Homo sapiens: one gene and its partner. The protein of the gene in region 1 purifies or fractionates together with the protein of each later gene. This does not show direct contact. Each region holds a gene or a part of one and is shown in the gene's direction. Other genes may lie near its edges.

Region 1 (3,826 bases):
GTGGGACTGGACTCCAGAGGCAGGGCTTTGACACCAGACCAGATTGAGGACTAGCTAAAATACGGCCTGGGCAAAAGCAGTTTTCAAACACACCCAGCAGTGTGGCATGTCAATTTACCTTTGCAATGGCAACACCCAGGAGTTACTGCCCCTTCTATGGCAGTAACCCAATGATTTAAAAGTTACTACCCCTTCCCTAGAAATTTCTGCATAAATGCCCCTTAATCTCCAGGCAATTAAAAGTGGGTATAAATGTGACTGCAAAACTGCCCTGAGCTGCTACTCTCTGCCTCTGGGGTAGCCCTGCTCTGCAGGAGCAGTCATGGAGCTGTACATCACCTGTTCACCAAAGCTGTTTGCTTCAACCTCAAGCTTGCCCTTGAATTTTTTCCTGGGCAAAGCCAAGAACCCTCATGGGCTAAGCTCCACTTTGGGGCTCACCTGCTCTGCATCACAAGCATCCCTCTGCTGGGTGCATTCTAATCCTCATTTTATAGATGAGGAAACTAAGGCTCAGCTCTGAAAATCCCTTGCTTAAGTTGCCACTGCCTGTATGGAAGAGCCAGGATTCAAAATAAGATGTCCCTGATTGCAGGTTTCATGCATGTCCTTGCAGAAATAACTTACTGCCTGAAGCCAGAAAACTTAGGTCCTACCTGTGGTCCTGCCTTTGAATACCTGTGTGACCTGCAACCTTTATTTTACTGTTTATAAAATAGGGATGTTAGCAGAGGAGAGATTAAATGTGATGGCCTTAAGTGAGATCATGCCAGGTACATTGTAAAATGTTGTAAAAGTTTAAGGAGGCATACACACAGATGGTCCCTGACTTACGAAGATTCCACTAAGCTGTATGATGGGGCGAAAGCCTTAGGCATTCATTAGAAACCACACTTCGAGAAGCCATACAACCACTCTGTGTTTCACTTTCAATTCAGTATTTAATACATTGCAAGAGACATTCAACACTTAATTATAAAATAGGTCTGCATCAGATGATTTTGCCCAACTGTAGGCTAATGTAAGTGTTCTGAGCTCCTTTAAGGTAGACTGGGCTAAGCTACGATGCCCTTTGGTAGGTTGGGTGTGTTGAATGCATTTTTGACTTATGATATTTTCAATTTTGGGGGACGTAGCCCCATTGTAAGTCAAGGAAAACCTGTATATATCTCCAAGGCCATGCTGGTAGGTGGTGGCAGAATATAGTGCACTGTGATCATTTCCATTCTGACGTGCTCGGCATCCCCGGTCTGCCGCTCACTCGCTCAGTTTCCTCATCTGTAAAATGAGTACATCTTAGGATGCATTTCATAATGTTGTCATGAGGCTGCATGGATAGAGTGTGTGGCACAGTGTCTGGCATTCAGTAGGTGCTAAATGAATGGCAGATGCCTTCCTGCCCCCCTGTCTCCAACCATAAGGGAACTCACCTTCTAGCCATTTTAAGAACTTAGGTTTTATAAATGACTATGACTATGGGAGTTCTCCCCACCCCTATCACAAATCATACTAAAAAGATCCCATATCATGTATGATTTTAATTTTTTTATCTTATTTTTCTTTTTTGGAGACAGGGTCTCTATCTGTTGCTCAGGCTGGAGTGCGGTGCTGCAATCATAGCTCAAGGTAACCTCAAACTCCTGGACTTTAGGGATCCTCCTGCCTCAGCCTCCCAAGTACGGAGAAATTAAATTTCTTTTTAAAAAGTAGCTGAGTGTGGTGGCATATACCTGCATTCCTAGTGTGGTGGCTCATACCTGTAATCCTAGCACTTTGGGAGGCCGAGGCAGGCAGATCACTTGAGCTCAGGAATTTGAGACCAGACTGGGCAACATGGCAAACCCCACCTCTACAAAAAAGTACAAGAAAATTTGCCAGGCCTGGTGGCACGTGCCTGTAGTCCCAGCTACTTGGGGGACTAAGGTGGGAGAATCAGTTGAGCCCAGGAGGTTGAGGCTGCAGTGACCCAGGATCACACTGCTGCACTCCAGCCTGGGTTTTTGTTTGTTTGTTTTTGTTTGTTTGTTTGTTTGTTTGTTTTTGTAGAGGCACGGTTTTGAACTCCTGGCCTCAAGTGATCCTCCCACTTTGGCCTCCCAAAGCACTGGGATTACCGGTGTGAGCCAATGCATGTGGCCCATGAGATTTTTAATATTGCTTTTGAAATGAATTGTTGATTTTGATGACTTACTTGATATTTGTAATTTTTGTCTTTCCTGCACTTTTAGAGTCAATGCATTTTTTTCCAAGTCTCAGATATTTCTGTGGGCCTTGCAGAGCTATGAGGCCTTGGGCCCTATGTCTGTTGTCCCTAGTGAGCATAAAGGCCTGGTGATCCCCTTTGGTGAAGGAGGAGGCGGGCCAGGACACTTTTTGCCTGCCCAGGGACGCGCTGTGCCCACCAGTCCTCCTCTTAGAGATGGTCATCTGGGGCAGACAGGCTCTATCTTCATCTTGTTTCCCTTCAGATGTCCTGCCTGCCCTGCCCCTGCACTTTACCTGTGGACAGTAGCCAAGGACACGCTGGGGCTGGCTGGGTAGAACGTGGCCACTCCCCACCTTGTCCTGTCTCTCATGGTGAGAGGGGGCCTTGTAGAACCCCCCAGGAACCAAATGTGGAGTAACCACTGCTTCCCATTTATGAAATCATCTCACATTTCTCATTTTAATTCTCACGAGGGCCCCAAGGGGTAGGGGGCGCTGTTATCTTGATTTTACAGAGGAGGAAACGGGCCCAGGGGAAGGTTCCGCTGTTCACACAGCTATGGGGTGGTGCAGTAGGACTCCCTCCCAGGTCTGTGGCCTCAGCTACTCACTGTACTCAATACCAAATTTATTTATCTTCTCAGTAATAAATGAATAATAATGATAGCTGAGATTGGTGTACCTTTCTATAAAACTCAAGTTATAGATGAATACTGTCTTACTGTAAAAGGTCCAAGCAGTGCGAATGTAGAAAGCCTCTTAACTTTAACAAGATCCCCAGTGAAGCATCTGAACAGTAACATTTGAGAAGTTCTGGTCTAAAGGGTAAAGCATTAAAGTACCCAGGCGCCCACACCTCCCCAGTCTCACTCCTGGCCCAAGGGGTAATTGCAGGTAACGGTATGGTGCGTTGGGATTGTCCTCTATGAGCCCTTTCTCCTTCACTATCTTATTTGATGCTCACTGAGAGGCAGGCCAGATGTCAACATCCTCTAGCTCAGTGAGGCCTGGTGGCTTGCCCAAAGCCCCTAGGCAAACACATGGAAGAGGCTGGATTAGAAACCAGATCTCCCACCTCCCCATCCATGGTCCTGACATGCTAATTAGAGCTTAATTATTTTGATGTAGGGCCTGGAAGCTGATGGATCCCATATTCTTATGGAAAGCATGTATTTATTATTACAGCCACCTTCTGGGCGGCGGGGGGTTCCAAGTCAACAGGCATGACGACATTGTGTCTCAGCTTTGGGGTCAGAGAGGTCTGGGTTTGAGCCTTAGTTTGCTTATCTATGCAGTGGGCATAAGAATCCCTATCTCACAGACTGGCTGCCAGGATGAAATAAGACCAGTGTATGAAAGTCTGGGCACCTATCCAACACTGTCTGAGTGCCTACAATTCTAACTGGCCTCCCCACAGCCTTGTTCATTCATCGAATGTGCATTTGCACGTCTTCCACGTCCCAGGCACCCTTCTAGGCACTGAGGACATAGAGGTAAACAAGACGGGCTTGGTGCTCTCATGGAACTGACATTGTAAACAGGGAAGATGGACAATAAGCAAGCCAACAAGGTAAGTTCACATGTGATAGTGCTCTGAGAAAAAGGAAGCTGGGGAAGAAAT
Region 2 (3,826 bases), on another chromosome or scaffold:
GCTGTTGACCCTTAGTCAAAGATGGCAAGTCCTCTTTCTCCAGAATACATATAATGTGGTTTGGAGATAAAATTAAGTGAAGGTTTGGTATCTACATCAAGTTAAATAGATTTTAAAATGCTCAAGAAGTATACATATATATATATAAAATATACACATATTACATTAAATGCAACTGAAGTTTTCCTTCAATAATTTATATCTTAGGGTATTTGAAGGCCATCTTCATAAGTAAATATGTCTGCTTCACCGTAAAACAAAATCTAGTCATTTGAGCTTTATTCAGATAAATGACAGTTTATTAATTTATAAATATACAAATTGGGGATATGAATATTTACTATTTTATGGAATAAAAATGAGCATACTTTTCCTTGATCAGAAAGTCTTTTTTCTGTTCTTATCTATTCCTTTATAAAAAAAAGCAGTAGACTGTAAAATATTCTATTTTTTATTTCTATTATGCTAAAAGTTTTAGTTACATCCTGTTTTTCAGTACTTAGAATCCATGATTTGAATGATTCCTATCATGTAGTTCCAAATGCATTTTGTGTGCATCTGCTAAGTCCAAAGAGCTCTCCTTTATACTTGTATACTTACTATTAAAACACTTTTATTTATTTTGCTGGTAATGGTGACACATTCAAATTTGTTTGCCGATAGACTTGCATATGTATTCCCTTTGTACAGGATATTATTTTTTTAAATGAAATAGGTTTGAATCCTATTTCTACCTACCGGTACTTTGAATTAGACAAATTAGTAACTTCTCTAACTTTAATTTCTTCATCTGCAAAATGAACAAAATAATAACTACCCTGCTCTGAAATTTCAATTGGATTATATATGGCCTAGTAATGACTCCTGCTTTTACTCTTAAATACTAGCTTTCTCCTGCTCCTTTCTCTTCACCTTCATAACTCATGAAACTAAGTAACATAACCAGGGAGGCTTTTAAGTGCCAAATCCAAAGAAAAGAACCAAGTTAACTGGATTCAAAGCTACTTAAACTGATAATTTTGAAACCATTTGAGCATCTGCCATTTTCTCAAACTCAGCCTCACCATCTACCCTCCCAAAGGCTCCTCTTCCCCATTTACCTGTCTCTTTGTGAGTAATACCACCTCCTCCAAAGCATGCAGCCCCCACACCTAGGAGTTAGTTTTAATTCATCTACTTCCTTTATTTCCCTTATCTGGTCACAGGGACATAGGCTAATAGAGTTGAAAAGGGGCTTCGAGATTCAGCTTTCTTCCTTTGCAGAGTGGTTCTCTCACTTCTGCAGGGTAACTTCCTAATATCAAGGAGGTCCCCCTACTAACAAGACACTGACACTCTTAGAAAGCCCTATTTGTATTCATCCAAATCTGTTTCTCTGGAATCCCACAATCACCGGTTAGAGTTCCTTCCTCTGCAACCACACGAAGTCCTAATTCTCCAGCCTAATGACAGCCCTTCACATAGACAAGGCAGCATCATGTGGCTCCTAAGTTACTTTTTTTTGTTGTTCCTTGGAATAAATGTCCACAGTTCCTTTAACTGTTTTCCATATAACATGGTTTCTAAACCTGTCATCATTCCTAGTGCTCATACTCCTTCAGACATTTTTCTGGGACACTCTTAAATGCGGTGTCCAGAGTTGGGCAAAATACTACAGATAAGATCATACCAGTGCAGAGCGTAGGAGACATGAGATATGACACCCAGCTTATGACCGCATTTGCCTCTGGCATCCACAGACTTATCTGGACCTTGTCATAGAATCAAAATCCTCAGTTCCTTTTTATTTGAAAATCTCTTAAACTAGAACATTCTTAATTTATTTTTGTGCAGTCAGTTTCTGAGCCTAAATTCAAATACTTAGGTTTATTTCTTTAACTATTGATCTTTTCAAGTCTCATATTTTTGTATGTGTCTGATGCATCTTCCTTTCTATAATATTCCCTTCTCTTCTCAATGCTATATTCTAGCCAGGAATCTTTCATTGCATTGGATCTACATGATTCTTCGGAATGCACATTTATGGCTATGTTTAAATATTAATTTATCCTCATTAATTATTCACATTCACTGCATTGTTGTGTGGACACCTGGGGACTTGACTCTAATTCCTTATTGCTTTTCTATTGTTTTTCTCCTTAGAATTACTAGAAATCCCTCCACTAATTCTTCCATCTATGTCATAATTGTTTACTATACCATCTTTTTGAATTTTAAATTAATTTCAGTTTTAATTCTTTTTGATTGAGTCAGAACACCTCTGGCCCAGTAAGTCTAAGTAACCTGAATCTTGTGTTTGGCCCAACAACAAGGTATTGTTACCCTTGATCTAGAAAAAAGAAATCCTGTTCTCTAACACCATTTACTTTCATCTCCCTTCCTCCGTCCTTTCCAAAGTTATAGCCTTCGAATGCAGAGAGAAATGAAAACACCACCTGTGTTCCCAGACTTTCCATTTCCTATCTAGGGCTTCAACATCATGAGAGATAAATCCCAGGTTCCTTCAGATGCTGCAATGCAGCCCCATATGATTCAGCAGAAGTGGGTAGCAGTTGGGTTTGATTAGTCTTGGCAGGCACTCTGTCACATCTCAAGAAAAGGCTCCAAGAGGACCACACACCTCCCAATTAGCCATGTCAGACTTGCATCTGGCTTTCTCTGTGTCCTTCAGTAGGAAGTCAACACCACCCAGAGCGAGTATCAGGATTTCCAGCATCTGCTATCTCCTGTGACAACTTCTTTTTGTTCTGTACATCAGAAGGTGCGGCTTCTTTTGAAGATTTTTGACTCACCTTTTATGGGCAGAATTTTGTGGTGCAATGTCACTCCATAATACAGAGATTCTTAATTAAATCATTCAGCATGAGTGTATTTAAAGACAAATCAAATGTAGATCTTGTCCTCACGAAATATACAGTCTAGAAGAAAGATGAGAGATATATGTTGATAATATGATAATTAATATTTTATTGCACTTTATAAAGCACTCTCAGATATATTATCTCATTAAATCTACACAGCAACCCCATAAGGTAGTCTTTATTATTCTCATTTTTTCCCATCAGAAAACTGAAGTTTCAAGACTTTAATTGGCAATTCAGGGATCATCCAGCCAAGAAACAGCAGAAATGAGACACGAACTTTTATCTTCTGAGTCCACTGGTCTTCCTTTGCCACTGCACCCTCCTTCTAGAATAAAAGGATTGGTGAAATATCGTGGAAGTTTTAGTACTGACAATACAGCATCCTCTATTTCATTTAATTTTCACAACCCTATAATAGGTTAACATTATCCTCATTTTATTAATCTGGAAATTGAGAGCATTAAGATGATTGAGACCTTGTCCAAGGTACAAAGAAGTAAGTGGCTGGAGTAGCTGTTTTCAGGGCTTTCTTCCCTCTGCATCATGCTGTCTCTTTCCACTAAACTTAATTTCCATTCTTTTCCTCAGAAGCCTTCTGTCTTGCATAAATGAAATGGAAAGAATACTTCTAGAAAATGATTCAAGAACGGCTTTGTGGAAGAGAGAGAGAAGAGCAGAGCTGTGACTCTCAAATTTTAAAGGCTTAAATGTCATTAAAGTGAAGGTTTCAAGCCTCTGCCCCCCAGAGATTGTCCCTAGATTCAGTAATTCTTGAGTGGGACTTAGGAGTCTGCATTTTCTAAACTTCTCAAGCGTGTTTGTAACAGGTAGATTAGAGAGACTTTACTTTGAAAAAAAAAAAGAACTAAATGAAAGTTTCTCTTCTTACTCTTTCTACCCTTTCCACCTTGTGGTAAGGTAATGTTCTTTCACTCACCAACTTGATTACTGATTTTAAGTCC

Evidence for each region.
Region 2: the proteins of SMPDL3B (region 1) and IFIH1 fractionate together in Homo sapiens (co-fractionation; one large-scale study listed by BioGRID). This does not show direct contact.

The regions. Positions count from the first base shown.
Region 1 is NC_000001.11:27,937,802-27,941,627, forward strand, and holds part of SMPDL3B (acid sphingomyelinase-like phosphodiesterase 3b isoform 1 precursor), read left to right. Parts: intron 1-3,826. UniProt on the Homo sapiens protein: Lipid-modulating phosphodiesterase. Active on the surface of macrophages and dendritic cells and strongly influences macrophage lipid composition and membrane fluidity. Acts as a negative regulator of Toll-like receptor signaling.
Region 2 is NC_000002.12:162,283,883-162,287,708, reverse strand, and holds part of IFIH1 (interferon-induced helicase C domain-containing protein 1), read left to right. Parts: intron 1-3,826.